4 linked regions of the Homo sapiens genome follow. The protein of the gene in region 4 binds, or shares a complex with, the protein of the main gene of each other region. Each region holds a gene or a part of one and is shown on either strand. Other genes may lie near its edges. The genes, in order: ISY1, PRPF19, ISY1-RAB43 and XAB2.

Region 1 (7,810 bases), on a different chromosome or scaffold from region 4:
ACCCGCCCGCCTCGGCCTCCCAAAGTGCTGGGGTTACAGGCGTGAGCCACTGCGCCTGGCCACATCATCTCATTTTTCAAGAGATGTGTCTTTTAGAAAATTTGCATTTTTTAAAATTATACTTTGGTCTGCAAAAAATTGCATTTTTAAATGTTTGCCACTAATTGATTCTTCTCCCCTCAAAATGGCAGTGCAAGTCAAAATAAGACACAGGCAGCCAGTTCGCAACCTGTTGTATACACTCCACAATAAAAATAAATGGATCCACACAGTAGCAAAATATGTGTACAAAACCTACCAGGAAGACCAGGGACAGACCCCTACCCTCCGGTCAACATGAGACAAGGAGAGGGAAGGAAGGCTGAGAATGGGGCAGGAGCCCTTGCAGCACCAGCCTGTGTCTGCAGCCCTGGGTCCTGAGGTACCACTGGGGGATGGAAGAACTCCAAGGAGAGCCCCAGCTGGGTCCTAATACCCCAGGAGCCTTCTGGCTTCTTCACTTTGGGCCTGCAGGGTCTCGCTTGCATACTTCTGGAGGAGTTCCATTTTCTTCCTTCGCACCAGTGCCTCCTCAATCTGTGGAAATTAAGAGTGCAGGGCTCACTCCTCAGCAAAGCCCCTCAACCCCTGCCAGACCCAGCCAGGAGGAAGTCCCCGTGGGAGAAGTCCATCAAGGAGTCTGATTTAAATACGCAGAATAGTCTCCAAGAGTCCTAACTCCCTCCCATTGGAAACATTTGAACGATAGAATGGCCTAGAGCAGAGGGTCCTGCCCTTTTTGGACCCCACACCCTGAACACAATGACAGGTGTCATGTGGTCAGGACCCTGAGCTGCCCTGATGGGTAGGAAGGACAACGAAAACCCACTACAGTGCTCTGTGAAGTCTGCTTTAGAGAAGCCCCCGGCGCCCAGGCAGCTCTTAGCTGTGGTCCTACCTCTTGCTGCGAGGGAACAGGGACGTGAGCAATGAACTTCTGCTGGCTGTCGTCCCCTCCTTTCTCCTGGCTGCCTTCCTCGTCCGACTACAAACAGAACAAACGAAAGTCCATCAGTAGGCGCCCAGCTAGATAAATGCTGGCAACTCTATAAAACACACTACTCTGCAACTATTTAAAAGAAAAAAAAACTAAGAAAGTTCTATACTTATAGAAAGACACTTGACCCACAAGATTAAGTAAAAAAAGCCATAGAACACGCTGTATATTATGCTACCTTTTGTCTAAGGAGGAAATAAGAATAGAAATTACTGACGGCAGTGAGACCAAGGTAGATGAGGGACAGGGTGAGGAAAGAGAATCTTTGTGGAATATCTTTATATTCTTTTTCACTTTTGAACCTTGTGAATGTATCACTATTTTAAAAAATTTAAATGTAAAAGAATGTACCATGCATAGAAAAATAATCAGCTCAGAGGTTGCCTATGAGTCAATACAAATTTCTAATAACAAAGAAAACACCACGGACTTGGAAAGAGAGAAGGGGTCTTGTGGCGAGTCAGGAGTCCACTGTTTGCTGGGCTCTGCCAGACACCGTGCACGACCCATTCCCTGACTGGCTCCCAGTGGGGATGGCTTCAAAAGCCTCTTGAGGAACCTCTCATCCACTGCTGGCACTTGGAGAAACTGGTTGTATCTAACACTAAACACATACCTACCCTGATCTGGTGGTTCCACTCCTCAGCATGTACTCAAGAGAAACACTGCACGGGAACAAGAAAATTCCCAGCAACCCTATCTGCCAAAACCCCAATCTGGACACAACACAAATACCCACAAACATTAGACACAAAAGAGTACACACGACTCACATATGTAAAGTTCAGACACAAGTGAAATATATGGGTCACAAGAGGTCAGGAGGGTGACCCCTGAGGCAGTAGTGAGCTTCTGGCGCTGTGGTCCTGTTCTGTTTCTTCACTGGTATTTGCTATGTGTGTGTGTGTTCACCCTGTGAAAATCCAGTGACCTACACATTTAGCAGGTGTGTACTTTTCTGTATATGGAACAACACTCAGCAGTGAAAAGGAATGAACTATTGAACTCAACAACCAGAGGGATGGCAAGGGCATCATGTTAAGTGTCAAGGCCATCGTGAAAGGTGACTCACAGCATGATCCCATTTATAAAACATTCTGAAATGACAAAATCAGAGATGGAGAACAGGTTAGGGTTCAGCTAGGAGAAGAGATGGTGAGGACAGGGAGGTGTGAACTGTGAAGGGGTGGCACCAGGGATCTTTGTAGTAAGGGGACAGTTCCCAGGCTGGAGTGCAGTGGTGCAATCACAGCTCACTGTAATCTGAACCCCCTGAGCTCAAGCAATTCTCACACCTCAGCCTCCTGAGTAGCTGGGACTATAGGCATGTCCAACCACACCTAGCTAATTGTTTTTATTTTTGGTAGAAACAGGGCCTCATTGTGTTGCCAGACTGGTCTTGAACTCCTGAGTTCAAGCAATCCTCCCACCTCAGCCTCCCAAAGTATTAGGATTACAGGTGTGACCACCACCCCCGGCCAGTTCTGTATCTGGATTGTCATGATGGCCACATGGATCTCCACACATGGAGACAAATGACACAGAACTCCACACACTCAATATGCCAATGTCAACCTCCCAGTTTTACTACTGTGCTAGAACTACATGAGATACAACCACTGGGGGGAACTGGGTGAAGCATACACAAGATCTCTCTGTACTCTTTGCAACTTCCTGTATCTCTATAATTATTTGAAAAGAAAAAAAAATTCTGCTGTGGGTTTCCACTGCTCTTCCCCACAACGCCAGCTCCCCATCAGCCTCCACTCACACCCAGCACCCACTCTCTGCACTCCAGCACACTGGGCTGTCCTTTGTCTCTCACACTCATCACAGGATCTCTCAGCACATGATGCGCCCCTGCTGGGAGCCCTCTCTCATCTCCTCCTTCCTTGGTTAAGTTCGCTGGATCATCCTAATCTCAGCTGAGGGTTTAGCTTCCCAGCAGAGTGTCTGCAGGCTGTCCCTGCACCAGGCTCTATTGAGGGACTGTTGCTCACTGTCTCTCTTACTGGACTGCCTCCCCCTGGACTATGAGCTACACTCCAAGCCTCTGTACCACCATGCCCCTGCACCTGGAATGCGGCTGGCTCACAGGAGCCATGAATTAAACACCTGCTGAGAGAGCAAATGAATATTTGTACCTAGAGGAAATCCTCCTAAGGCATGCTGCCATCCTGCTTCAGACCTGCACTGAACCCCAGTGCTGGCCCAGCTGGACATGAGCAGGAACGTCAGGCCTGTTATATCCCATGTGACATTAAGTCACTAAACCTGAGCCTGCTTCTTCACCAGTGATGTCTCAGCAAGCTCCTCATGTGGAACCTGAGCCATCATCCATGTGTGGGTGATCCCCTCCCTTCTCTCAGTCCAGCAAATCAGATCCACCTAGACCTGTGCAGGCAGCAAGGACTCCAAATATAGGGCCCCGCAGAAGAGCTCTGCCTGGGAGGCAGAGATTTCAAATGTTGAATTTTCCTTGTTTCAGAATACCTCCTTTAATGCAGTGAAGTTTTGGTAATGTTTCATAGAAAAAATAAAAGGTGTAGCACAGACAGATATGTCAAGATTACTTACATGGTGGCTATAATAAAAAGTAATAACTAAGATATATAATGAGTATTTCCTATAAATCAGAAAATATGCAAAAGATCAGAAAATATGCAAAAGGTCTGAAAATATGCAAAGATTCCCCAACCATGACCCTCTAAGAAAGTTTCTTCTCTGCTCTGCGTTTCTTTCCATGTGTAAGACAGGGGTGTTAGGGCTGGGAGCAATGGTTCACACCTGTCATCCCAGCACTTTGGGAGGCCAAGGCAGGTGGATCACAAGGTCAGGAGTTCGAGACCAGCCTGGCCAATATGGTGAAACCCCGTCTCTACTAAAAATACAAAAATTAGCCATGCGTGGTGGCACTCGCCTGTAGTCCCAGCTACTTGGGAGGTTGAGGCAGAAGAATTGCTTGAACCCGGAAGGCAGAGGTTGCAGTGAGCCAAGATTGTGCCACTGCACTCCAGCCTGGGCAACAGAGCCAGATTCCGTTTCAAAAAAAATAAAAAAGATGGGGGTGTTAGACTACAGAAGAGCAACTGCCACTGACACGTGAACAGAAGTGATGAGGTCATGGGCTAAAGCTCATGGCTTCCTCTGTGTTTATCAGTCTAATTCTAGTGTATGCAGAAGGGCCTGTCTTTAAGAAGGAAAGAAGGAAGCCCTGGTGTAAAGCACGGCCGGCAGGGCACTCTCATGGCTGCTGCCTCCTGAAACCCTCCTGTAATCTCGCAAGTGTTTTCACAGCCATCCTGCAGGTGAGCAAGCTGGGCTGTGAACCCTGACTCTGTATTTGGGAGCCAAGTTTCCTCCCTGCCACACTTCATGGCTTGGAACAGATGGCAGTGAGTGCCAGAGGGGGCCAACCCCAATACCTCCTCCTCGGTGACTGCATAGATGTTGATCTCTTCCTCCTCTTCCTCCTCCTCTTCCTTTTCTCCTCTTGCCAGCCGAGCCTCTCTCTCTGCTTTCCACTTTTCCACTAACTCGGCTCTGACTGAACACAAGAGAGGGTAGGTGCTATTTATTTGTCTCTAAATGAGCTTTCAACACTATGCAGGGAAAGGCCAACACTATGCAGGGAAAGTCTAGACATCCCCTCTAGAAAGGGACACCCTTCATTCTGCCCCCGTGGGTGGAAATGGATGTGAAGCATGGTAGTCCTACAACAGCTCTGGCCTTCAGTCACTACAAAGCAGCTTTTTAGGGAACATTCCCAAATCCTCCCCACTTCCACAACCTGAGTGGATTCCCAACATGTCCACATGAAAAGAGAGAAGGCAGGGGCAGAGCATGCTAGAAAGCAGCTCCAGCTCCAGACCACTTGCTTCCAAAGTCCTGGCCTGATGTGTCACATGGGCACTGGTATTAGCACGAATCCACATGGTGACCTCCTAGCAGACAGGGACCGGTCAGACGTGGCTCTCATGGCTTCCCCAACCTGTTACCTCTGGCCCACACAGCTTTGACTGCCTCACAGGGGTCAGGGAATTAGCAGACCATCACGCCTGAAGATCATTAGCAACAAAGAAAACTCCCTTCTGGCATAAAGCACTATTGAAAATCCTGTTTTCAAAGGACACAACAGAAAACAGATGCCATCTATTATGAAATAAAATGCCCAGAGACCTACGTTTCTTTTCATATTCCTGTTCCAAAGGCACAATAACACCATCATCTTCATCTAGGTAACCATAGTACTCAAAATCGATTGCCTTCATGAGCTCAGCACGTGTCTTTCTGGGAGGAGGAAGAGCTATAAGAAACAGAAATGGAGCTGAGTTTCCAAGTCATAATCACACTCCAGCGAAGCTGTCTCCTGATGCAACGCTATACACACACGTGGCACGTATGTTCATGAAAATACCAGGTGGGCGCAGTGGCTCATGCTTGTAATCCTAGCGCTTTGGGAGGCCCAGACAGGTGGCTCACAAGGTCAGGAGTTCGAGACCAGCCTGACCAACATGGTGAAACCTCGTCTCTACTAAAAATACAAAAATTAGCCGGGCGTGGTGGTGCGCACCTGTAATCCCAGCTACTCAGGCTGTGGCAGGAGAATCGCTTGAACCTAGGAGGCAGAGTTTGCAGTGAGCCGAGATCACGCCACTGCACTCCAGCCTGGGCGACAAAACAAGACTCCATCACACAGAAAAAGAAAATACCATGGATAGACACTTTTCTATACTATTCATGGAATTATTTAAGTGGTAGAGCCCTTTTTAAAATCAGTACTTGGACCCATTTGTCCGTTTAAAAGCAATCTACCTAAGTAAAAAACAAAACCAGGCCGGGTGCGGTGACTCATGCCTGTAATCCCAGCACTTTGGGAGGCCGAGGCGGGAGAATCACGAGGTCAGCAGTTCAAGACCAGCGTGGCCAATATGGTGAAACCCCATCTCTACTAAAAATACAAAAATTAGCCAGGCATGGTGGTGGGGGCCCCTGTAATCCCAGCTACTCCTGAGGCTGAGGCAGGAGAATCGCTTGAACCCAGGGGACAGAGGTTGCAGTGAGCGAAGACTGCACCACTGCACTGCAGCCTGGGCGACAGAGCGAGACTCCATCTCAAAAAAAAAAAAACAAAAACCAAACACGAGATAGCAAAAAGCTTCATGTACAGAAATATGCATCACAGTATTATTTATATAATAGAGAAAACTTGGGAATAACCTATGATTGTAAATTGCAGAATATGTATGGGATGGGATATCCTGCAGCCCCTGTAATGCTATTTCACAAAGTATTTTAATAACACAGGAACTGTCATAATGTTTAATGAAAAAGCATGACAGGAAACATAAGTAAATAAAAAAGACAAAAGAAGCTAGAAACAAACAAAAAAGATACATGAGAAAGCCCTAAAGAAGATATTTTCAGACTAGGACTACAATCCAGAATATTTAAGTAATTCTTTTTTTTTTTTGAGATGGAATTTCGCTCTTGTCCAGGCTGGAGTGCAATGGCATGATCTTGGCTCACTGCAACCTCTGCATCCCGGGTTCAAGCGATTCTCCTGCCTCAGCCTCCCGAGTAGCTGGGATTACAAGCACCCGCCACCACACCCAGCTAATTTTTGTATTTTTAGTAGAGATGGGGTTTCACCATGTTGGCCAGGCAAGTCTCGAACTCCTGACCTCAGGTGATCCACCCGCTTAGGCTTCCCAAAGTGCTAAGATTATAGGTGTGAGCCACTGCACCCGGCTAAGTAATTATTAAAAATGAAAAACAAAATGACAACCAACCAGATTGGTGAAAGAATAAAAGCTGGCCAGGTGCAGTGACTCATGCCTGTAATCCCAGCATGTTTTTTTCTTTTTTTTGTGGGACGGAGTCTCGCTCTTGTTGCTCAGGCTGGAGTGCAATGGCGCAATCTCAGCTCACCACAACCTCCGCCTCCTGGGTTCAAGCAATTCTCCTGCCTCAGCCTCCTGAGTAGCTGGAATTACAGGCACGCACCACCACGCCCGGCTAATTTTGTATTTTCTTCTTCTTCTTTTTTTTTTTTTTTAAAGACAGAGCCTCGCTCTGTCACCCAGGCTGGAGTGCAATGGCGTGATCTCAGCTCACTGCAAGCTCCGCCTCCTGGGTTCACGCCATTCTCCTGCCTTAGTCTCCCGAGTAGCTGGGATTATAGGCACCTGCCACCATGCCCAGCTAATTTTGTATTTTCTTCTTCTTTTTTTTTTTATTTTTTATTTTTTAATTTTATTTTTTTAGACAGAGCCTCACTCTGTTGCCCAGGCTGGAGTGCAATGGCGCGATCTCAGTTCACTGCAAGCTCCGCCTCCTGGGTTCACGCCATTCTCCTGCCTCAGCCTCCCAAGTAGCTGGGATTACAGGTGCCCGCCACCATGCCCAGCTAATTTTTTGTATTTTTTTTTAGCAGAGACGGGGTTTCACCATGTTAGCCAGGATGGTCTTGATCTCCTGACCTTGTGATCCGCCCGCCTCAGCCTCCCAAAGTGCTGGGATTACAGGCATGAGCCACCGCACCTGGCCTAAAAAAATAAAAAAATTTTTAAGGCCGGAAAGGAACATACCAAACAGATAATAATGGTTATCAGTTACCTCTAGGAGGGGCACTGGGATGAGTGTAGAGGTAAGAGGACTTTAACTCTATCTGTGCTATTTGAATTATAACCAGTAAAATTCACTTATGCATTTTCTTTCTAAAACAAAAATCTTTTCAATAGATGACAAAAAAGGAAAAATAAATTTAAAAAC
Region 2 (8,358 bases), on a different chromosome or scaffold from region 4:
TCCCAGAGCCTAGACCAGTATCAGTGACCCAAACAATATCCGAGCAAACACGAATGTGCCGGCAGACACTCTTGAGCTCCTACCCCAAGCGAACCACTGGGCACACAGACAGGAGTGGGAGCCAGCTCTTTCCCATCCCCACCTTCCCTAACTTACTGGCAAATCCCAGCTGTCATGCCGTCCCCTCTCTAAAAGAGAATAACAACACTGCTGCTGCTGCTATTTATTGATCGCCCTCGTTGTGTCAGGCACTGTGCCAGACAGTCCTGCAGGATGTATTCAATCATTCAATTCATAACTCTAGAGCACCTACTATGTACCAGGTGCTGCTCTCAGTGCTGGGGATACAACGAAGAATAAAACAAATCCCTGATGTCACAAAGTTTACCCTCTAAATAATGCTCCATCCTTCCTACCCCCAAGTCCTAACCCAGCAATGCATTCTCTTCAAGTGGGGAAGATGCTGATTCTCTTGCAGGAACTCACCCACTCATCCTGCAAAGCTTTCAGAATGGCCGGGATGCTGGTGGCTGAGGGAGGCTTGGGCCGGATTGGGTGAGCAACTGCCGAAAGGGAAAGCAGGTATGAAGAACATAACCCAGGGGCCTCCCCCGCCATCACATCTTTTCCTTTTAGCCATAAACAGCCCACCATCTCTTCCTCCAGTGCACTGGCACCACCTCCCATCCTCTCAGGCTCTGAGCTAAGATGGCCCTAGACTAAGGCAGCCAATAGGCACCTTTGATGTCGATGAGCTGCTCCTCGGAGAGAGGCTGGTTGTTGATGGGGTCGGTACCATTCTCCGCAATGTACTTCTCGATGAGCCGCCGCTCATAAACATGATTAGAGACAGGGGATACACATGGGTGCTCCGGCACTTCGTTAGAGACTGTAGAGAAAAGGCTGGTAGTGAGCTTGGAGTGAAGGCAATCTTGGGCCTAGAGGATTCCTCATCTGCTATTAGCCCCAACAAGACTAGGCATCCTCACACTCAACTAGCAGAAAGCAAGACATTTGACCCTAAGCCAGTTCTGTACTGGCCCCAGAATGCTTTCCAGCTATGGAACTACCTTTTCCTTTAGTCTCCTGACTGAGGAGATAGTCTCCTGACTATCTGACAATCATATAGTCAACAAATAATTATTAACAACTACTATGTGCCAAGCACCTAGAGAATAGCAGTCCATTATCACCACCTCATATCTGAACAATGATTGTGTACTCTATGAATACAGTTTACTCCATGACATGGAGATACACATGAAGCCATTCAAATCCCTGCCATCCATCTTAGTCTATAGCTCCAGACAGATTATCAAAGAAATTATAAAGTCTGAGAATACAGGAATAACAAACTCAGTTTCTCCTATTCTCTGACAAAACAAAATACTTCTGTGACCTCAGATGTGACCATCTGGGTGTCCTCCAATTCAATTCTGACACCAGGTACCTGGAGATAGTGTCAGATCATACAGGTTGAGGTCTCAGTCCCACCAGACTCCCCGCCCCTTCAGATGCCAATCGCAAGCCCCAGGTTGTTTGACCTGTTCTTCTGATCTACCAGCTGTAAATCAGGGTTCCCATGACCTCCTTTTTGGGTTCAATTAATTTGCAACAGTGACTCAAACAATTGTGGGAAACACTTATGTTTACCAGTTTATTGTAAAGGATATTACAAAGGATACAGATGAAGAGGAGCATAGGATGAGGTATGGGAGAAGTACAGAGCTTCCCATGCCTTCCCTGGGCACCCCACCCTCCAGGAACCCCCACATGTTCTGCTATACAGAAGCTCTTTGAATCCTGTCCTTTTGTATTTTTATGAAAACTTCATTACAAAGGCATGATTCAATAAATCACTGGTCACTAGTGACGACTTCAGTTCCTCTCATTTCCCCAGGTAAATGGGGGGTAGGACTGAAAATCCCAACCTTCTAATACCCTTTAGTCTTCCTAGGTGACCAGTCCCCATCCTGAAGCTATTGAGTCTACCAGCTACCAGTCAACTGATTAGCGTACAGACACTTATCACCTGGAAGATTCCAAGGAGCAAAGTGGCAATCGCTACAATAAAAATATTTAAAAATATTTACATGGCACATTTGCATGGCACATTTCTATGTGCCAAGCACAATTCTAGGCATACAGTACAGTAATTCATCTTCACAACAACCCGCAATAGAGGTATCATTTACACTCTTGCCTGCGTAGACTGTGCACCCCTTGAGGATAAGGATTACAGCTGGTCTCTCACTTCCAGTACAATGCAGATGCCCCCAGGGCACTCGGTAAACATCTAACAAATGAGTGAACCATGCCAGGAAGGATGGTGCTGGGGAACGTAAAAGAGAGCTTCCCGAAGATTGGAAGGAAACAATAAATGTGAAGGTACTTTGCGAGCTGTAATTTCTTCAAAGTGAGGGATTCCTTTTCCATCATTTCCCTTCCTTCTTCCCCCTCTTTGGATCAATGTACAGGTTCTGAGAAGAGAAGGAAGTGAATAGCAAAAGGGAGGGGAAACGAGTAATCTGATGAAACAACGAAAAGGGAAAGGAAAATGTCTGTACGTCATGATAAAATATCAAAGGGAAAGATAGTGGAAGGTATGAAAAAAGCATGGATTCAGGGTCCAAGATCCGTGTCACCTAACTACGTCACCCAGCTCTGCCACTGACTAGCTACGCATCCTTAGATAAGCCCCGCTCTTCCTGCGCCTTGCATCCTCATCTGCAAAACCAGGATCTTTATTTCTCCTTTAGGGAATTCTTGTGAGGATAAAATGAGATCATAGACTTGGAAGCGCGTTGTAAACCAATAAGGGCTTATAAATGTGCGCTGTTTTTATTAGTCATACAGTGTAAGGCTGGGAGCCAGATACCTGGCTGCCAGCCTTGCCTCTACCTCTAACTCATCATGTGACCTTTGCAAATTGCAAAAGCTCCGACTATCCGAGCGAGGCCTCGCAAAACATCCACTGCAATGCTCTCGATTTTGCAGATGGGGAAACCGAGGCCCAGAGCCTTGAGCCAATTCATAAAGCCAATGGGAGGCGGACCCTGGACAAGACCTCGAGTTTTCTGACTCCTACATTAAGGCTGCTTCCCTTGCACCAGCTCTCTCTGTCCAGACCTGTTTCCACTCTGTAGAATGAGGCGACCGGCCTCAGTAATGTCTGCGACAATAAACCTCAGGCACTATGTAAACTGCGGGGCACTGCGCAAATGCACCCCGCTCCGACGGGGGGGGCTCCGGTGCTGACAGGCCGCCGCTCGGCCTCCGGAGCGCCCCATTCCCGCCTCCACCCCGGCCCGGGCGCCGCAGCGGACCGCACACGCTCCCGCGCCGCTCTCTGGCCTCCTGAGACCCGCGCTTGGCCGCAGCCAACACTCACTGGAGCAGATTAGGGACATGGCGCCGTCACCGTGCTCCGAGGCGCCACACGCCGGGCTCCGGGACTAGCTTCTGAGCCTCCGCGAGCCACTTCCGGTCCCCCGCTGCTGCCGGGACTGCTCCGCGGCGAGCTGGGAGCCGCCAGCCGAGCGATGCTAGCGTAGCGCTTCACGTGGGAATGGGGACAGCCGCGCGCCACAGCCTTCAGCACCTAACGGAAATTGCCCTTTCCCAGAATGCAGCCGGGCAGGAAAGGGCCCGCCACGAACACTCGGTTATTTCCGGATTGACTCGGCTCGTTCCGTAAAGCGCCGGAGGATTGGCTGGGGCGTCGGGAGAGAGGAGGCTCGAAACTACATTTCCCATGACGCAGTGAGAATTTAAAACCAAAACAATTGGACAGCACTTGTTTTGACAACTGTGCGGCACTGTGCCACGGGACCCTGGTCTTTGAAACCTTGGCGTGCGCGAGAATTTCCCAGTGAGTTTGTTAAAATGCAGATTCCTCGGGTCTGCGTAGACAGACTGTGCCCCACGCTTTTCTAAGTCAGTTGTTTCTCGGGCTACCCTTTAAGAGACACTGCTGGATGGCCTGGTGAAGAAAATACAGAAACAGATGGGTACAAGAACTAAGAAAACGGCTAAGAAAGTGTTTTGGTCCTGACTACTACCATTTCGCTCTGTGATTTGGGGCAATTCACATTGCCCTTTCTTCTTTGTCAAAAGACAAAATCACAACAAACTTAGTTCAAAGATTTTTTTTTTCTTAAGAGACGGACTCTGGCAATGTTGCCCAGGCTGGAAGGCAGTGGCTATTCACAGGTGCGGTCATAGCAATCATGGCTATCACAGGTGCATCCTGGAACTCCTGGCCTCAAGTGATCCTTCTGCCTCAGCCTCCGGAGTAGCTGGGACTTAAGGTGCGATTCTATAGAATTGGGCAGTGCCTCATACTATAAAATATAATGGTTGTTCCAATGAGCTGAACAGGAGAACTTGGTTTTATAGACAGAAAAGGACTGAGGAAAACAGGAACAGAGAACAAAAAGCGGATTGGTCATTTGGTAATTTCAAAATTACTTTTCTTGTAAAGGTTAAAGTGGAGGGGACTTATCATGCCACCTAAAACTTGCCTGTTTGGGAATTTAGCTCCCCCCTACACACACACACACACACACACACACACACACACACATACACACTCAGAAGGTCGTAAAGATCTTCGTTTCAGCTTATTGGCGTGGAGCTTCAGCAGGACTAACTCTTTTTAGCTTGGTCTGTTAGGCCTAGCAGAAGAGCTCAGTCCAAACCAATGGCCTCCTATAAATTTCTTTATTTTGTATTTTGGATTTTGTATTTTCTATTTCTCTTCCAGCTCAGATAGTGTATGATTCTTTGTGGATATCTGTAAGATAAGATACTCTCAGGAATCATGCAAAAGACGTGGTGTGGACTGTAAGGTATCAAGACAAAAGGGCAGGATGAACAGGATGTGAGTGAGAGGGACTTTGACAGGTGGGCAGTATTCAGAGGAGAAGGAGAACGAAAGGCATTCCGGAAGAAGAAACAACGTAAGCAAAAGCTTGGAGAGAAAAATAAAAGTTACAGGTACAAAAGGCAATATGGCATAGTGGCCAAGAGCATGGACTCTGAAGTCAGACTGTGTGCTCAAATCCTAGCACCACTCAGGTGATTGGCAGTATGAACTTCTCTATGCCTTAGTTTCCTCATCTGTAAAACAGAGGGAGTGATGACAAGGGTAGAACTAACTCACTGAACTCTTATGAAGAGTTAATATGCAAAAGGGCATCTCATCTCTGTCTTGCACCAACAAAGTAACTTCCCACTTGTTCCTTGCTTCCAGCCTGGCCTCCTCCTCCTAATCTACTTTCCACAGAGCAGACAGTGATCCACTTTGAACGAAATATCTATTCATGTTATTCCCCAGGCATTTCATTCATCCAACAAATATTGATTGGGTGCTTCCTATGTGCCAAGCCCTATTGTAAAAACTGGAGATAGAAAAGGTCAACAAGAAAGACACAGTTTCTGCTGTCTTGGAGCTTACACTCTACTGTGGGTGGTGGGAGCACAGAGACAATCAACACTTAAGAAGAAAATTCCAGAGTAGTAAGTGCTATGAATACAACAAATCAGAGCAAGGTAGACAGAGGTGCTGGGGATTGGAGGAACGGCTACTTGAGGCAGGGCACTTAGAGAGTGCATCACTGAGGAGCTGATTTTTTTGCTGAGAACTGAATGAGGGTATGGAGCAAAAAAGTTTCCCCTCTGCCCTCTAAAGATTTGCTGAAATTAACTGACAATCGACAGAATAACAGGAGAAAAGGCATACAAGTGTATTAGTGTGTGAGTGTGCACAGGAGTAATACAAAATATGAGGCTCAAAGAAGGAACAGGTGGCTGATGCTTACTTAAATGGCACCCAGGAAAGACGGAGATGGGGGAAATGTAGGCAATTTTGAGGGCTAGCAAATAATTTTTAGGGAGGGCTAGCAAATAATTTTTAGGGGAAATGAATGAGCCCCAAGAACAAACAATGCCTTGGGACAAAGTTCTTATGAGCTCTGGAGGAGGTGGCAACAAATTGTGGGAAGGTGAGGGGCAGAACTCCATTGTGAACAAAGGTTGTCTTATTATGCACATAAGGTCTCTCAGGTAATCTGTTAGAGCTCCCATCAGAAGAATAGATTAAAAGTCTCTCTAGGTGTAGTGGTGAGTTGGTGACTTTTAGTTTTTATTCTTCTCCAGTGGTTAATCTTTCCTGGTTATTTGATGAGTTTCCTGTGGAGGGAGATTTGAGACAATTGCATTTCTTCTGAAAGAAATTTTCTCAGTCAGATAAGGGAACTTCTAGAGAGAGCTTCTCCCTGTACTTAGGGTGGGGGTCAGGGGGCAAGAGAAGGTTAGAAAGTCCTTGGTTCTAAGGCAGCTTCTAAGACCTTCCCATTTCTTTTCATTCAAAAGTGCTCAGCATGCTGTAACCTCAGGACCAATCCAAACTGGGCCTACTCTTTTGATAACAGAATGTCATGTTCTCTTGTAGGTATGACAGAGCCAAAACTCCAAGTCATGTCAGTAGGGCATGCCCAATAGAAAATGCTTTGACATCTAACAACACCCAGAACCAATGATTCCTCCCTGTGGTACCAAGAAGACCTAGACATGATCGGAACCTAAATGCTGGAACTCTTTCAGGAGCAAAGGGTCTGTTGACCAGAAAGATCCAGGGGTAAAATCCACCTCAACATACCCGTGTAGTCAAATTTGACACCCTCCAATCAGACCCTGCCAAGCCAAAATTCCTAATACGTTTCCTTGCCATCTGTATTAGTCTGTTTTCACGCTGCTGACAAAGACATACCTGAGACTGGACAATTTACAAAAGAGGTTTAATTGGACTTACAGTTCCACGTGGCTGGGGAAACCTCACAATCATGGCAGAAGGCAAGGAGGAGCAAGTCACATCTTACATGGATGGCAGCAGGCAAAAACAAAGAGCTTGTACAGGGAAACTCCTGTTTCTCAAAACCATCAGACCTCATGAGACTTATTCACTATCACAAGAACAGCACAAGAAAGACCTGCCCCTATGATTCAATTATCTCCCACTGGGTCCCTCCCACAACATGTGAGAATTCAAGATGAGATTTGGGTGGGGACACAGCCAAACCATATCACCCTCTGACCCCTTAAATCTTGCCCCAGACCCCAAATTAGGAGACAGATGTGAGCCATGCCTCCAGTCTCCTTGCTGGGTGGCCCTGCAATAAAGCCTTTCTGTTCTCAAAAGCTGGTACCATAGTATTGGCTTCTATGTGCATCAGGCAGTGAGCCTATTTGCTCAGAAACAATACTAAAGCACCATACTTTGGGGTATCATTCTCTGAGCCCCAACCAGGGGTCATTCCTGAGGCCATGAATGAGGGAGAGAGTTTCTGGCTGAGGAAACTTGCCCGTAAGTCTTGCACCATCTGGCCCATGCTGACCATCACAGTCTCACTTTATCTTCTTTCCAGCCACATTGGCCTTTCAGTTCCTCAAACATACCCGCGCTGGCTGGTTTCAGAACTTCTGCCTGGATCACTGTCCTCTCCCCCCTCCCTCTTCCCCCTCCTGTCTCAAACCCTCCAATGTAAACTTCAGTCTCACCTTAAATGTCACTTCCTCTGGAGCCCTTTTCATGGTCCCTGGTTTAAATTTAGTCCATACAGCAAACTGTGATTGTCCTCCAAACCACTTCAAAGAACTGTAATCATTTAATTATCTATTTATAAGTATCTGATGTCTGGGTTCTTCACTAGACTGTAAACTTCATGATGGCAGGAACCATAATTGTTCTGGTTACTCTTGCTCTCAAGAGTGTAAGAGTGCCACATTGTGCCTGGCACATAGCAGGAACTTTATGATGATTGTTGGTTGGAAGACAGGTTGCCTGACAGGCCAGTCATCTCAACTACTGTACTTGGATGTGTGGTTGGAAATAAAATGGATCCGTTTAGGAGAGGCCTTGAACCCAAGGTGGTAAAACTTGGGTGGTGATTGGGCTGGCAGCACAACAGCATGTGTTTGCATTTGAGCTATGGAGTGATAACCATACTTTCAGAAGTTTCCTCTGGAAGACACTTACTGGATGGGTTGGAGTGGGACAGACTAGAAGGAGGGAGACTCAGTAATTAATTGTTGAACCAATCTTTATTGAGTACCCATAGCGTGTCAGCCCGGCACGATACTAGGTGTTGGTAGTATCACAATGAGCAAAACCAGAGGTGTCCCTCTACTGGGGAGTTTATGGCTATGATAGCAGGATGCAGGAAAAAGGAAGTCCTGTCAAGGCTTTTCCGTTTCATAAGCCAGCCCACAGGGAATAGAAAAAATTCAGGGCACTTGGTTTCAGAGAAACAGGGAGAGTTAAGGGAAAAGAGATATATGCATTGGTGCTGGTGGGTC
Region 3 (7,810 bases), on a different chromosome or scaffold from region 4:
AGGCAGATATCACTTGAGCCCAGAAGTTCCAGACCAGCCTAGCCAACATGGTGAAACTCTGTCTCTACTAAAAATACAAAAATCAGCCAGGTGTGGTGGTGGATGCCTGTAGTCCCAGCTACTCGAGAGGCTGAGGCAGAATAGCTTGAACCTGGGAGGCAGAGGTTGCAGTGAGCCGAGACTGGGCCACTGCACTCCAGCGTGGGTGACAGAGGAAGACTCTGTCTCAAAAAAAAATATATATATATATAAATATATAAAATATATAAATATATAAAAATATATATAAATATATAAAAATATATATATGAATATATATGGGGTGTGTGTGTATATATATAATTCTGTATATTGAACTTCTTTTCTGTGATCTTGATAAATTCACTTATCCATTTTAGAAGTCTTTCTGTAGGTTCCTTGGGATTTTCTACATAGAAAATTATGTAGGATTTTAGGTGGGCATGGTGGCTCATGCCTGTAATCCCAGTACTTTGGGAGGCAGAGGCGGGTGGATCACCTGAGGTTGGGAGTTCGAGACCAGGCTGGCCAACATGGCGAAACTCTGTCTCTAGTAAAAATACAAAAATTGGCCGGGCATGGTGGCACATGCCTGTAGTCCCAGCTACTCAGGAGGCTGAGGCAGGAGAATCGCTTGAACCCAGGGGACAGAGGTTGCAGTGAGCCGAGACTGCACCACTGTACTTCAGCCTGGGTGACAGAGCGAGACTCCATCTCAAAAAAAAGAAAATTATATAGGATTTTCTATGTTACAATAAAGACAGTTTTACTTATTATTTTCTAATCTTTATGCCTTTTATTTCCTTTTTTTACTTTACCGCACTGGCTAGGATTTCCAGCATCACGCTGAATATAGTGGTGAGAGTGGATGTCTTTGCCTCGTTCCTGATCTTAAGAGGAAAGCATTCAATCCTTCACCATTAAATAGTTTATTGGCTATGGGTTTCTTATAAGTACTTTATCAGGGCCGGGTGTGGTGGCTCATGCCTGTAATCCCAGCTCTTAGGGAGGCCAAGGTGGGTGGATCACCTGAGGTTGGGAATTCGAGACCAGCCTTGCCAACATGGTAAAACCCTGTCTCTACTGAAAATACAAAAATTAGCTAGGCGTGGTGGCTGGCACCTGTAATCCCAGCTACTCGGGAGGCTGAGGCAGGAGAATCACTTGAACCTGAGAGGCGGAGGTTGCATTGAGCTGAAATTGCACCACTGCACTCCAGCATGGGTGACAAGAGCAAAACTCCGTCTCAGAAAAAAAAAAGAAGTGCTTTATCAGGGTAAAAAGTTCCCTTTTATTCCCAGTTTGCTGAGTTCTTATCATGAATAAACGTCTAATTTTGTCAAATACTTTTTCTGCATCTACTTAGATCATACAGTTTTTCTTCTTTGGAATGACACAGTGAATTAACTTATTTTTGAATGCTGAATCTACTATGTTTTTCCAGAATAAATCCTCCTTAGTTGTGATGTATTATCCTTTTTATACATTGCTAGGTTTTGTTTTTTTTTTTGAGACGGAGTCTCGCTCTGTCGCCCAGGCTGGAGTGCAGTGGTGCAATCTCGGCTCACTGCAAGCTCCGCCTCCCGGGTTCCAGCGATTCGCCTGCCTCAGCCTCCCAGGAAGCTGGGACTACAGGCACCTGCCACCACGCCCGGCTAATTTTTTTGTATTTTTAGTAGAGACGGGGTTTCACCGTGTGTTAGCCAGGATGGTTTCGATCTCCTGATCTCACGATCCACCCACCTTGGCCTCCCAAAGTGCTGGAATTACAGGCGTGAGCCACCGCGCCCGGCCATACATTGCTAGGTTTGATATGCTAATGTTTCATTAAAGATTTTTGTCTATATTCATAGGAAATATTGTCAGTAGTTATTTCTCATAATATCTTTTTCTGATTTTAGCATCAGGGTAATGCTGATACTAAAATTCACAAAATGAGTTACAAAGTGTTCCCTCTTCTTCCATTTTCTTGAGGAAACTATGTGGAGTTGGTATTATTTCTTCCTTAAATATTTAGTAGAACTGACCAGTGAAGCCATCTGGGTCTGGAATTTTCTTTTAGAAAGGTATTTAGAAATGAATTCAATTTCTTTCCATCTTTTTTTTTTTTTTTTTTGAGATGGACTGTCGCTCTGTCACCCAGGCTGGAGTGCAGTGGCCCAATCTTGGCTCACTGCAACCTCTGCCTCCTGGGTTAAAGTGATTCTCCTGCCTCAGCCTCCCAAGTAGCTAGGATTACACGCATGCGTCACCATGCCTGGCTAATTTTTGTATTTTTCATAGAGACAGGGTTTCACCATGTTGGCCAGCCTGGTCTTGAACTCCTAACCTCAGGTGATCCACCCACCTCCACTTCCCAAAGTGCTGCAGTTACAGGCGTGAGCCACGGTGCACAGCCCCAATTTCTTTAACAGATATAGGACTACTCAGGTTTACCATTTCTTTTTGAACTGTGTCTCTAAACAGTAGAATTATTGACACTGTAGTTTATTTAGGATAATTATTTGTAGGAGGCTTAGCACATCCCTGGCCTCTACCCACTATGTGCCAGTAGCACCCTTCCAGTTGTAACAATCAAAAATTTCTTCAGGGCTGGGCGCAGTGGCTCAAGCCTGTAATCCCAGCACTACGGGAGGGTGAGGTGGGCAGGTCATGAGGTCAGGAGATCGAGACCATCCTGGCTAACATGGTGAAACCCCGTCTCTACTAAAAATACAAAAAAAAATTAGCTGGGCATGGTGGTGGGCGCCTGTAGGCCCAGCTACTCAGGAGGCTGAGGCAGGAGATTCGCTTGAACCCGGGAGGCAGAGGCTGCGGTGAGCCAAGATCATGCCACTGCACTCCAGTGTGGGCAACAGAGCAAGACTCTGTCTCAAAACAAAACAAAACAAAACAAAATGAACTATTTCTCGGCCAGGCACTGTGGCTTACACCTGTAATCCTAGCACTTTGGAAGGCCGAGGAGGGTGGATCCCCTGAGGTCAGGAATTGAAGACCAGCCTGTTCAACATGGTGAAACCCTGTCTCTACTAAAAAATTACAAAAATTTGGCTGGGCGCCATGGCTCACGCCTGTAATCCCAGCACTTTGGGAGGCCGAGGCGGGCGGATCACGAGGTCAGGAGATCGAGACCATCCTGGCTAACACGGTGAAACCCCATCTCTACTAAAAATACAAAAGATCAGCCAGGCGAGGGGGTGGGCGCCTGTAGTCCCAGCTACGCGGGAGGCTGAGGCAGGAGAATGGCGTGAACCCCGGGGGGCGGAGCCTGCAGTGAGCTGAGATGGCGCCACTGCACTCCAGCCTGGGTGACAGAGCGAGACTCTGTCTCAAAAAAAAAAAAAAAAAAAAAAATTAGCCAGGTATGATGGAGGGTGCCTGTAATCCCAGCTACTCGGGAGGCTGAGGCAGGAGAAATTGCTTGAACCCAGGGAGGTGAACCCAGGGAGAAATTGCTTGAACCCAGTGCAGTGAGCCGAGAACTCGCCACTGCACTCTAGCCTGGGTGACAGAGCAAGACTCCATCTCAAAAAAAAAAAAAAAAAAAAAAAAGGACCACTTCTCTTAAGTGAGCTTTGGCAGTTTGTGTCTTGTAAGGAATTGACCTATTTCATCTAAGTTGTCAAATTTATGGGCATAACATTGTCTGTAATATTTCCTTATTATCCTTTTAATGTATATAGATTCTATAGTAATATTCCCAATTTGGTTCCTAATATTCTTAATTTGTGTATATTTTTTCTTGGTCAGTCTGACTAGAAGTTTATCAATTTTATTGATCTTTTTTTTTTTTTTGAGACAGAGTCTCGCTCTGTCTCCCAGGCTGGAGTGCAGTGGCGCGATCTCAGCTCACTGCAAGCTCCACCTCTTGGGTTCATGCCATTCTCCTGCCTCAGCCTCCCAAGTAGCTGGGATTACAGGCGCCTGCCACCACATCCAGCTAATTTTTTGTATTTTTAGTAAAGACGGGGTTTCACCGTGTTAGCCAGGATGGTCTCGATCTCCTGACCTCGTCATCCGCCCGCCTCGGCCTCCCAAAGTGCTGGGATTACAGGCGTGAGCCACCACGCCCAGCAATTTTATTGATCTTTTCAAAGAACCAGCTGTTGGTCTGTTTTCTCTATTCATCTTGTTTTCAATGCTATTGATTTCTTATCTTTACTATTTCCTTCCTTCTGCTTGCTTTGGGTTTAATTTGCTCTTCTTTTCTAATTTCACAGGGTAGAAGCTTAGATCACTGATTTGAAAACTTTCATAATTTTCTATTATTTCAGTGCTATATATGTATTTTTTGTTTGTTTGTTTGTTTGTTTGTTTTGAGATGGAGTCCTGGAGTGCAGTGGCACGATCTTGGCTCACTACAACCTCCGCCTCCCGGGTTCAAGCGATTCTCCTGCTTCAGCCTCCTGAGTAGCTGGGATTACAGGCACATGACACCACACCCAGCTAATATTTGTATTTTTAGTAGAGACAGGGTTTCACCATGTTGGCCAGGATAGTCTCTTATCTCCTAACCTCGTGATCCACCCGCCTCGGCCTCCCAAAGTGCTGGGATTACAGGTGTGAGCCACCGCACCAGGCCAGTGCTATACATTTTTATCTAAGCACTATATCCCATAAATTTTTTCATCCCCTAAATTTTGACATTACGTTTTCACTCTAATTAAATTCAAAATATCTTCTAATTTCTTTGCTGTTTCCTCTCAGACACATGAATTATTTACAAATATGTTGTTTAATTTCCAAATATTTAGGAATTTTTCAGATATGAATCTGTTGTTATAATCAGAGAAAATACTCTGTGTAATTTCAATTTTTTTTTTTTTTGAGATGGAGTTTCACTCTTGTTGCTGAAGCTGGAATGCAATAGTGTGATCTTGGCTCACTGTAACCTCCGCCCGTTAGGTTCAAGCGATTCTCCTGCCTCAGCCTCCCAAGTAGCTGGGATTACAAGCATGCGCTACCACGTCCAGCCAATTTTGTATTTTCAGTAGAGGTGGGGTTTCTCCATGTTGGTCAGGCTGGTCTCAAACCCCAGACCTTAGGTGATCCTCCCTCCTCGGCCTCCCAAAGTGCTGGGATTACAGGCGTGAGCTACTGCGCCCGGCCTCAAATATTTTAAATTTGCTAACATTTGTTCTGCAGCCCAGAATATGTTTTATTTTGGTGAATGTTCCACGTGCTCTTAAAAAAGACCATGTATTAGGCCGGGCATAGTGGCTCATACCTATAATCCCAGCACTTTGGGAGGCTGAGGCGGGCGAATTGCAAGGTCAGGAGATCAAGACCATCCTGGCTAACATGGTGAAACCCTGTCTCTACTGAAAGTACAAAAAAATTAGCCGGGCGTGGTTGTGGGCACCTGTAGTCCCAGCTATTCGGGAGGCTGAGGCAGGAGAATGGCGTGAACCCAGGAGGCTGAGCTTGCAGTGAGCCGAGATCGCACCACTGCACTCCAGCCTGGGTGACAGAGTGAGACTCTGTCTCAAAAAAAAAAAAAAAAAATGACGTATTCTTTATTGTTAGGTACAGTGTTGTGAGACAGAGTATTCTACAACTTTCAACTACATCAAACTGACTGATCGTATTGATTGGCTCTTCTATGTCCTTACTGATTTACTATCTACTTGCTCTATTGATTATTTTGAAAGGAGTATTGAAGTCCTCAAGTCTAATTGTGGATTTGAGAATCAAGCACTTTAAAGGAACAAGTTTGCTTACCATTCTGAATCTGAGCCACTTTTTTAGAGATCTCTCCAATGATCTATTAAAAAAAAGTAATACATTTTAATAATTTTTGAATATGTTAGAAAGCACAGAAAAACTATAATTCAAAATTAGTATTTAAAAATACTTAGACTTTTGGTCTAACAGTCATTTAGATAATAAGAAGAAATGAGAGACTTGTTACTTCTACTGAAATCAGATTTACCCAGAACATACCTGTCGTCTCCACTTCTCAGCTTTAGGCAGTTCAGTACATTCTGAGGCCAGAAAGGGTCTTCGTTCCTAAGGAGAAAAAAATAACACATTTCCATTATACTATTTACAAGTTTCAAACAACATTCAGAACTGATTCAGGCCTTAAGCCTAAATCATCTAATGGCCTAAAAACATTTGAAGTTTTCATTCCAGATGATCCTCATCAAGCCTTAAACCTCATTCTACAATCTCTCCTTAGGAAAAACATTGATTGCATTGTATTTAATATTGGAAAGAACTTAACTGTCCTGCAATAGAGAGACAGCCAAACTAGGTTATAGCTATTTCATGGCATATTTATAGTACCTTAAGAAACAATGTCTATCAGTGTTTAAAACAAACATACATAAATATGGGTGTATTCATATACATGTGCGTATATAAAATTAAAAAAAAAATCCAAAGAATGGTATATATTATCTCTAATTTGGGTGAGTCTCTAAGAAATGAAATAATTTACCGGTTTCAGCTTACAGCTGTTCTCCACATCATACTCCAGTCCCTATTCAATATTAGAGCTGGAGTAATAAAGGACCCAGTCATCAGGCTGGGCACGGCGGTTCATCTCTGTAATTCCCACTTTGGGAGGTCAAGGCAGGCAGATTGCCTGAGGCCTGGAGTTTGAGACCAGTCTGGCCAACATGGTGAAACCCCATCTCTACTAAAAATACAAAAAAATTAGCTGGGTGTGGTGATATGTGCCTGTAATTCCAGCTACTCAGGAGGCTGAGGCAGGGGAATTGCTTGAACCAGGGAGTTGGAGGTTACAGTGAGCCAAGATCACGCCACTGCACTCCAGCCTGAGCGACAGAGCGTCCATCTCAAAAAAAAAAAAAAAAAAAAAAGGGCCGGGCCCAGTCATCATAATACAGAAGAAACTGAAAAACAAGCAGCCAGATCCATCACCCTGCCTCAGCTATGGGGAGGTATTGGAATTCAAGTGTACAGACTCTCAAGAGCGTCAGCAGGTACAGATAAGAAATAGGAAATTCTGAAGTTTGAAGTCTGTTGACCTGGAGTGCAGCAGCGCGCTCTCGGTGCACTGCAACCTCCGTCTCCAGGGCTCAAGTGATTCTTCTGCCTCAGCCTCAAGTAGCTGGGATTACAGGTGCCTGCCACCATGCCCAGCTAATTTTTGTATTTTTAGTAGAGATGGGGTTTCACCATGTTAGCCAGGCTGGCCTCAAACTCCTGTCCTCAAGTGATCCACCCCCCTCAGCCTCTCAAAGTGCTGGGATTACAGGCGTGAGTCACTGCACCCTACTTTTTTTTTTTTTTTTGACAGGTTCTCACTGTGTCACCCAGGCTGGAGTGCAGTGGCATGATCATGGCTCCCTGCAGTGTAAGACTCCTGCATTCAAGTGATTCTCCTGCCTCAGCCTCCCCAGTAGCTGGGACTACAGGCAGGCGCCACCATGCCTGGCTAGGCTAATCTTTGTATTTTTTGTAAAGAAGGGATTTTGCCATGTTGCCCAGACTGGTCTCAAACTCCTAGACTCAAGTGATCCACCCACCTCAGCCTCCCCAAGTATTGGGATTACAGGCATGAGCCACTGCACCCAGCCTGCATTTATTCTTGATACTTTACAATTCATGAGGAAGATTTACACCAACCTTCACTTTTCCCTCTTCCAGCTGAGCCTGGCGAAATCTTGCTAAGGCCGTCCTACCAGCGATATAAAAGATAAAAGACTCCATTAGATCCTGCTCATACAGACTTCTCATTACCCATGTTCCTGTATGGGGTAGATCTGCTTATGACCATATTTAATGTCATTCATATACAAATATTGTAATTAAGAAACCACAG
Region 4 (7,810 bases):
CCCTTAATAGCCTACAGCCCGCTAATGGCTTCCCAGGCTTAGGACTAAGGACCACGCCCTGGTCCTGGGCCGTGCACAAGGTCTGGCGCCTGGCCCCCGTCCAGGCACAGAAACGCGTTACTAATCAGTTCCCAGAGCTGGGCCAGAGCCTGCCTGACTCCAAGACTTGAGGGCAAGGGCCAGTCCCTAGTGGGGAACAGACAGTGGGTGCCACCCCAGGGAGGCGGCAGCTGCCTGGGGCCACAGAAGGGCTCTGAGAGGCAGGGGCTGGCGAGACCTGGGCAGCCAGGGGCTGGATTGCCCTTCCCAGGCTACAGAGGCTCAAGGAAGTTTCCGGGCAGGACCCACTCCAAGGCCCCAGGCAGCGGAGGGACTGGCCTCTCGAGTCCAGAACTGGCTCTGCGGGGTGAGGCCGGGCAGTATCTGGCCTGGGGCCCAGCCGCCCCACCTCCCACAGCAGCCAATCCCGGCCCAGGGCCAGGCACTCCTGAGCTGTACTCCCTCGGGCACCTGGGCAGCAGGAAGGAGGCTCAGACCATGATGTACAAACGTAGCTGTATTGGGGAGGGGGTGGGGAGGGGGGATGGGGGAGGGACGGGTCAGTCTTCCTTCAGGCTCCCAAACACTGCGGCTGGCACGCTCTGCTGCTCCAGCCGAACCTCTGTGGGGAAGGCGGGAGCCAGTCACCCTCCTGGCGTTGGCCTGTCCCCCGAGGCCCACCCTGGTAATGCCACCGTCCCCGCCCCAGCCGGGCCCTCACCGTTGGGCTCCAGGTCCATCTCGTCCTCGTCCTCGTCCTCGCCCAGCTGGATCTCCTCGGGGTTGACCTGCTGTGCCAGCTCTGCCAGCTCCTCCCGGGAGGCGTCACTCCTAGGGACGGGCCATGCTGCCTCAGTTCCCCACCCCGGGCCCCCTTGGGACCTGTCCCAGTCCTGTCCCGTCCAAGGATCCGCCCTCACCTCACGAACAGGATCTTGCTCTGGGCGCGCAAGGGCTGGTCACGCTCCGCCTCAGCCGCCAGCTGCTCTGCCCGCTGTTCCAGCAGCTTCATGTCGTCCATGCCACTCTGCCCAGGGGCCAGGTCAGACACTAGGGGGTGGGAGCAGGGGGTCAGCGCCACGGGGGCCCCTCCCACACATCGGACGTTGCACTATCCCAGTCCCCCAGGTGATGGCCCAGCCCTCAAGGAGATTGCCATCAGGATCCGAGGCTCCCAGACCCGGAAAGCCCAGGTCAGGCCGGGCTGAGATGCCCTGGATCAGGAACTCAGCCAGCTGGGACGGCTCACCGGTGCCCGTGGCACTGCCCGAGACCTTGAGCATCTGCGAGGCCATGAAGTTGACCTGCGTGTTGTACGTGGCCTGCACGCTGCGCCGGATACGCAGCATTTCCTTGATGGTGTCCTCATTGCCATGCCGGACCTCAAAGTCCTTCCACGTCTGCCAGAACGCGCCGGTCGTCTGCGTGGGGGGCAGGGCAGGGGTGGGTGTGTGTGCCCGTGAGCTGGCTGACTCCGCCGCAGCCCCCAACCCTGATACCCGTCCCTCCCCACAGCCCTACCCGGGGGTCACAGATCTGGGAGCAGAAGCTGTAGATGGCCCGGGCGCGGTCAATCTCCCCGAGCTTGCACTCCATGTCTGCAAACCGCAGGCACATCTCACGCGCGTGCTCGTCCGACAGCACCTGGACACCGGGGTTGGGGAGGCCGGGAGTGAGGCCGGGGTAGCTCGGGGGCTCCCAACACACCATGGCCATCCCTGTGCTTCCAGAAGGCTCCTCCTCAGCCCCTCCCACCTGCCTGGACCCCTTCCGTCTGCTCAGGGACCTCTGGCCCCGGCCCAGCCCCCCACGGTGGGTACCTCAATGGCCTTCTGGTAGATGCCGCGGGTGTGGGTGACCCCATAGATCTCGGCCGCCCGCTTGATGTAGATGTTGAACATGTCATACTGCTGGGCGGGCTCCACGGCCCTGGTGGCACGCTCGTACACGGCCATGGCATGCCGGGCCAGGCCCCACTCCTCCTCCAGCTGTGCGTACAGCAGGTACAAGGCTGGGCGGGGTAGGCGGGGAGAGGGGAGCACGGTCAGCCGGGGCCAGTCAGAAACCCAGCCCGCCCGCCACCCCCCCCATGCCCTCTGCCCGCCTCACTCTTGGCATATTTTGGGGGGCAGCCGTCCAGAGCCTGTTCAAACAGGTCCCGTGCCCGCTCCAGCTTGCGGCCCCCATAGCGGGCAATGAATTTGGTCAGGTAGGTGCTCCAGATGTCGGACACGTTGGGCCACTTGAACAGCGAGATGCCGCGCTCGTACGCCTGTTACCAGAGGGAGAGTCACATGTGAGAGTCTGCAGATAGAGACCACCAGGCACCCGGGATGTCCTTGGGTGGCGTCTGTAGGGAGCCTGCCAGGAACTCCCTTGGGGCCCTTCCCTGTCCACGCCTCCCTGTCCCTAATGGCAGTTGTGGGGGTCTGTCCTCTGCACTGTCTCCCTCTGTGAGAACCCCAAGAACAGGGGTGCAATGGGACCTGCTAAGCACAGTCTGGCCCCATAGGAGGTGACATGATGGGTGAAGGTGGGTGGCTCCCCAGCTCCGCTGACGCTGGCTGCCTGTCCCCAGGGAGAAGGCCGCACCCCCTGACAGAGGGGCAGGCAGTAGCACGCGTATGCATGTACGACCTCCCCATTTGTGTATCTGTATAATGCCCACACGATCCATAGAAACACACACTCAAACATGACTGCTCCGGCCGCGGGACATGGCCTTCCCACGGACACGCAACCCACCCCCTGGACCCCACAACCCGTCTCCTGAGCAGCGGGGCAGGGAGAGCCCGCACACACTGGCACCAACACCCTCCCCATGAGTCATGGGTGCACGTGGAAGTAGGATTCTGTGCCTGCTATGGAATGAACTGTGCCCCCCTCAAAACATTCATATGCTCAAATCTTAACCCCCAGTACCTCAGAAAGTAGATTCGTTTGAAGATGAGATCACTAAGTTAAACTGAGGTCGTTAGGGGCCACCTAATCCATTATGACTGATGTCCTTTATAAGAAGAGGAAATTTCAAAAGTGACACACACAAAGAGAAGGCCACACAAAGACATAGGGAGAAGGCGGCTGTCTGTAAGCTAAGGAGAGAGGCCTCAGGAGGAACCAGCCCTGCCCATGCCTCGATCCTGGACTTCCAGCCTCCAGGACGGGGAGAAGCTAAATCTTTGTTGTTTAAGTCACCCAGTCTGTATACTGTGTCACACAAGCCCCAGCAGATTCGTAAGTTGCTGAGGACCCCTGGGGAGGGGACACTGCCATCAGGGGCCTCTGGGTCCACCCTAGCCCCTCACCTTGAAGCTCTCCTCGAAGTACTTGTGCTCCTCCAGGAACATGGCATAGTTGATGACGATCTGGGGTGTTGCGATACGCAGGTCCAGGATGCGGTCGTACACGGCCTTGGTGGACTGCAGGGGTGGGGATGGGAAAGGTTGGAGCTGGTTCTGGAGCTGAGTCCGGGGCCCCGTCCCTCCCCAGCCACAGGCAGCTCACCTGGAAGGTGCCGAGGCTCTCCTCCAGGTCGGCGAGCATGGACCAGACCTTCAGTGACTTGTACACGCGGTTCTGCACGGGCTCTGAACCATCAAAGTACTCGGCCCGGCGGGCAGGCAGCGCCGTGGCCTTCTGCAGGGGCAGACAGTGGCCGGGGAGGCGCTCAGGGGCTGTCCCTGGCCCTTGCCCTACAACCTGCAGCCCCCACCCCACAGCCTGGGCCTGTTCTCACTCGCAGCAGCCGCAAGGCCTCATCGTAGTTCTCGTGTCGGAGCTCCAGCTCTCCGCACTGACACCACACGCTTGCCAGGTCATCCACCTGCTTGAAGTTCACCTTGGTGGCCTTCTCCAGGATGACACGGGCCTGCCGGGGCGGGCAGAGGCGAGGCTGAGACCCTGCCCACCTGGACAGCTCCCACCATCAAGGGTCAGAAAGGTGACCATGCTCACAAACATACAGGCACAAACACACAGGCACACACACAGGCACACACATGCGTGCACATATGCATGCACCCAAATGCACATGCACACACACGTGCACACATCCATGCACAAATATGTACACACACATACATGCACACATATACAAGCACACACACATGCATGAACACACAGGCACACGCAACAGGGTGCTCACATCGTCCAGCTGTCCGTTGTCCTCATAAAACTTGGCAAACGCCACCCACAGAGTGTGGGGCTTGCCTGTGGCCTTGAAGGGGTCCACCGTCTGCACAGCCTCTGTGTAGGTGTTGATGATCTGGGGACAGGAGGGAGGAGGTCATATAGGACTCAGGACCCTGCAGATGACGGTCGGGGCAGAGCTGTGGCTCTGAGGGGTGGGGCCTGGAGGGTGCTGTGGCCCCTGTCGGGAGAGGCCAGAAACGAACTATGGCCCTTGACAATGGTCAGGACCAAGAGAGAGCTGTGGCCCTAAGGGGCGGGGCCAGGAGAGAGCTGTGACCCTCCAAGGGGCGGGGCCACGAGGGAGCTGTGGCCCTCCAAGGGGTGGGGCCAGGAGGGACTGTGGCTCTGAGGGGCGGGGCTCGGGCAGGAGGAGAACCCCAAGAACAGGGGTGGAATTGGACCTACTAAGCAAAGTCAGGCCCCTAGAAGGTGACATTATGGGTGAAGGTGGGTGGCTCCCCAGTTCTGCAGGAAACTGGCCCTCAGGGGTAGGACTGGGGCAGGCTTCATGTACCTCCCGGGGGCGGCCCTGGTGCAGGGCGACACGCTTGTGCCACTCGTGCACGTGGTGTGGGTTTTGGCGCAGCAAGACGCTGTTGAGGAGCAGGGGCCGCCGGCTGATGAGCTGCTCGAAGCGGGCCAGGCGCAGCTCCAGGTCCACATCATCTGGGAGCCGCGAACATGTTTGTCAGGGGCGGAGACCCAGGATGCAGGTCCCCGGATGCCACCGCCTCCACTCCCCACCCTCACTCCGCTCCAGCCCCCAGCCAAGTGCTCTGGGCCCTAGACACTCAGCTCGGGTGTCCACCTGAGCCCCACCCCCAGCCCCAGGTACTGTGGATACCCCCTCCTACCCCCACTGTTCCCCTAGCCCTCCTGCCCTGCCAGGCTCTGGCCCAGGCCTGAGAAGTGTCCCCATTCCTGGCTCCTTCAAGACCCCCACACCCCCTGCATCCACTCAGCCTCCTTCCCTGCTGGCCCCCAGCTGAGCCTCCCAGGGCTGCCTCACCTGAGATGTGTCCCGCCCCTACCGCTAATGTCCACTCAGCTCTCTCCCCACCAGCCGGGGCCCCCAGAGGCTCACCCTCCTCCTCGCGCCCCAGCTCCGAGGCGGTCTCCATCTTTGCAGCGATCATGCTCTCCTCGAACTGGGCGTAGCTGTCAAACACCTGTGTGAAGTCCCGCACGGTCATCACTGTCCGGATGGCCTCCTCGTACACGTCCCGAGCCTGTGGGGACCCAGGGAAGGGGAGGTGAGAGGAAAGTGGCGCAGGGGACAGGCAGCAGCACTCTTAGCACCAGCCTCAATGTGGAACCCCTGGGGGCCTTCTGGGTAGTGACGCATCCAGCACCTCTGGGTAGTGACCCCAGGACAGAGCCTCCGTGGAGCCTTCTCACCCCCGCCCTGCCCTGCACTGCCAGGGTGGTCTTGGGAGCTTCAGGACCTCCTCAGTAAACTGGGTGACTGCCCTTTGCACACAGTGACCTCAGGGCTCGACTGAGACACATGTGTGAAGCACTTGGCACCCAATAGGTGGCCAAAAACCCCCCAGCGCCTATGGGTCCACCCTGCAGGGACCCTCGCCTCAGCTCATCCTCCGAGGCCTCAGAATTTGCTCCAAAGCGTCCCTCTCGCTTGCCTGACCCTCTTCCCCAGCCCGCCTGTCCTCCACCTGGCTCGCCCACCCCAGCTCAGGTCCCCTCTCTCTACCCAGCCCTGACGGGTCTTGCCCTGCTGCCTCCGACAGCCTTGGCCTACACGTGCCCCTGGAAGGGGCGCTGCGAAGCGCATACCGCCCACACCCCACTGGCGGCTCCCCCAGCCAGGAGCATGGCCAGCCCGTTTGGCTTTCGAGGCTCCCAACCTATCTTCCCTGGGTTCCTGAGCCTCCCCGCTCTCGGCTCTGGCCCCCTCTGCACCCACCTGCCCCCAGGCCATCCCCTGAGCTTGCCACTCCACTGCCTGCCAAGAGCCACAGTCAGCTAACCCCTGAGGGAGTGGCCCTCACACCACGTACCTCCTCAGTGCTGTGCCTGCGTCACTGAGCTGATTGGTGACAGGCAGTAACTGTCACCCTGATTTTACAAATGAAGACACCCCACCTTAGTGGGGCCAAGGCCGCAGAGCCAGAGGGTGAACCCTGAACGCAAATGTGGCTGACTCCAAGGCTGACGTGCCTGCGGGCAGGAGTGCTCCCCCACCCTCAGCAGGATAGTAATCGTGTGCAGGGATATGCATGTCTGTCAAAAATGGCACTTTTTTTTTTTTTTTTTTTTTTTGAGATGGAGTCTCGCTCTGCCACCCAGGCTGGACTTCCGTGGCGCGATCGCAGCTCACGGCAACCTCCACCTCCCAAGTTCAAGCGATTCTCCTGCCTCAGCCTCCCGAGTAGCTGGGATTACAGGCGCGCACCACCATGTCTGACTAATTTTTGTATTTTTAGTAGTGATGGGGTTTCACCATGTTGGCCAGGCTGGTCTTGAACTGCTGACCTCAAGTGATCCTACCGCCTCGGCCTCCCAAAGTGCTGGGATGACAGGTGTGAGCCACCACACCCAGCCATAAATGGCATGTTTTCTGCCTGTGCATGTGTCAACATGTGTCCCCGAGTGTCGGAGGGAGACCCCGCCCCGAACCCAGAGCCCCGTGTGCCAGCATGCACCTTCTCGAAATGGCCGCTGCGGATGTAGTAGTCGGCGAGAGAACACCAGAGCTTGCCCAGCTGGTCGGTGAAGCGGGTGAGGCCCCCGCGGATGATGGCGTCCACATTGAGGGACTGTACCTTGTCCGGATTCTGGGAGATGAGGTCGCACAGCTCGTGCCACAGCTGCAGGGCATGGGGCAGTGGGGGAGAGTCTCAGGCTCAGTCATGGAGGGGGTGGCCCTCCCACCCAGTTGCCGGCTCCCGGCAGGCCCACCTGGTAGTTGGACTTGCCGGCCTTAGACACGAAACGCTCGTCGTTCACCACGGTGGCCAGGCGCTGGGCGGCCTCATCCAGCCGGTCACTTGACTTGAGGTACTCAATGTACTCCTCTGCACTCTCAGGACTCAGCTGGGGACCGAGCCACCCCTCAGGCAGTCAGTGGGGTGGCAGGGCTACGCCCACCTCCCGATTCAGTGGCTTCGGGGCGTCCCCCCCCACCCATTTATGAGTGTCTTGGGCAAAAGCAAGCCCTGTCAAACCAGCCTCAGCCCCACTGGTCCAGCCCGGTTCCTACTGGTCTAGCCTTGGCCCCACTGGGTTAGGCTCAACCCCCTGTGGGTCCTGCCTTGGCTCCACTGGTCCAGCCTCAGTCCTGACTAGACCAGCTGTGGACTTTTTGGGTTAGCCTTGACCCGCAAGGGCACAGCCTTGACTGCGGTGGTCCAGTCTCAGCCCCAATGGTCCAGCCTTGGTCCTTTTGGGTTAGAATTGACCCCCAACCCACAATGGGTCCAGCCTTGGCTCCACTAGTCCAGCCTCAGTCCTGACTGGTCTAGCCTTGGCCCCTTTGGGTCAGCCTTGATCCCATGGGTCCAGCCTTGACTATAGTGTCCAGCCTGGGCCCCACGGGTCCAGCCTCAGTCCTGACTGGTCC

The links.
Region 1: XAB2 (region 4) and ISY1 share a complex: the UniProt entries of both Homo sapiens proteins name them as parts of the XAB2 complex.
Region 2: XAB2 (region 4) and PRPF19 share a complex: the UniProt entries of both Homo sapiens proteins name them as parts of the XAB2 complex.
Region 3: XAB2 (region 4) and ISY1-RAB43 share a complex: the UniProt entries of both Homo sapiens proteins name them as parts of the XAB2 complex.

What each region holds. Positions count from the first base shown.
Region 1 is NC_000003.12:129,129,613-129,137,422, forward strand, and holds part of ISY1 (pre-mRNA-splicing factor ISY1 homolog), read right to left. Parts: intron 7,585-7,810; coding exon of another isoform or gene 7,519-7,584; intron 5,343-7,518; coding exon 5,220-5,342; intron 4,584-5,219; coding exon 4,462-4,583; intron 1,025-4,461; coding exon 938-1,024; intron 577-937; coding exon 469-576; 3' UTR 1-468. Other genes in the region: ISY1-RAB43 protein, read right to left, coding at 476-576, 938-1,024, 4,462-4,583, 5,220-5,342. UniProt on the Homo sapiens protein: Component of the spliceosome C complex required for the selective processing of microRNAs during embryonic stem cell differentiation. Required for the biogenesis of all miRNAs from the pri-miR-17-92 primary transcript except miR-92a.
Region 2 is NC_000011.10:60,902,973-60,911,330, forward strand, and holds the start of PRPF19 (pre-mRNA-processing factor 19), read right to left. Parts: upstream 3,614-8,358; 5' UTR 3,411-3,613; coding exon 3,392-3,410; intron 890-3,391; coding exon 740-889; intron 564-739; coding exon 487-563; intron 1-486. UniProt on the Homo sapiens protein: Ubiquitin-protein ligase which is a core component of several complexes mainly involved pre-mRNA splicing and DNA repair. Required for pre-mRNA splicing as component of the spliceosome.
Region 3 is NC_000003.12:129,150,894-129,158,703, forward strand, and holds part of ISY1-RAB43 (ISY1-RAB43 protein), read right to left. Parts: intron 7,667-7,810; coding exon 7,615-7,666; intron 6,028-7,614; coding exon 5,962-6,027; intron 5,783-5,961; coding exon 5,740-5,782; intron 1-5,739. Other genes in the region: pre-mRNA-splicing factor ISY1 homolog, read right to left, coding at 5,740-5,782, 5,962-6,027, 7,615-7,666. UniProt on the Homo sapiens protein: Component of the spliceosome C complex required for the selective processing of microRNAs during embryonic stem cell differentiation. Required for the biogenesis of all miRNAs from the pri-miR-17-92 primary transcript except miR-92a.
Region 4 is NC_000019.10:7,618,987-7,626,796, forward strand, and holds the end of XAB2 (pre-mRNA-splicing factor SYF1), read right to left. Parts: intron 7,285-7,810; coding exon 7,150-7,284; intron 7,059-7,149; coding exon 6,894-7,058; intron 5,460-6,893; coding exon 5,315-5,459; intron 4,897-5,314; coding exon 4,745-4,896; intron 4,304-4,744; coding exon 4,184-4,303; intron 3,908-4,183; coding exon 3,776-3,907; intron 3,676-3,775; coding exon 3,544-3,675; intron 3,459-3,543; coding exon 3,345-3,458; intron 2,312-3,344; coding exon 2,149-2,311; intron 2,051-2,148; coding exon 1,860-2,050; intron 1,684-1,859; coding exon 1,561-1,683; intron 1,461-1,560; coding exon 1,289-1,460; intron 1,090-1,288; coding exon 960-1,089; intron 871-959; coding exon 761-870; intron 662-760; coding exon 600-661; 3' UTR 539-599; downstream 1-538. UniProt on the Homo sapiens protein: Involved in pre-mRNA splicing as component of the spliceosome. Involved in transcription-coupled repair (TCR), transcription and pre-mRNA splicing.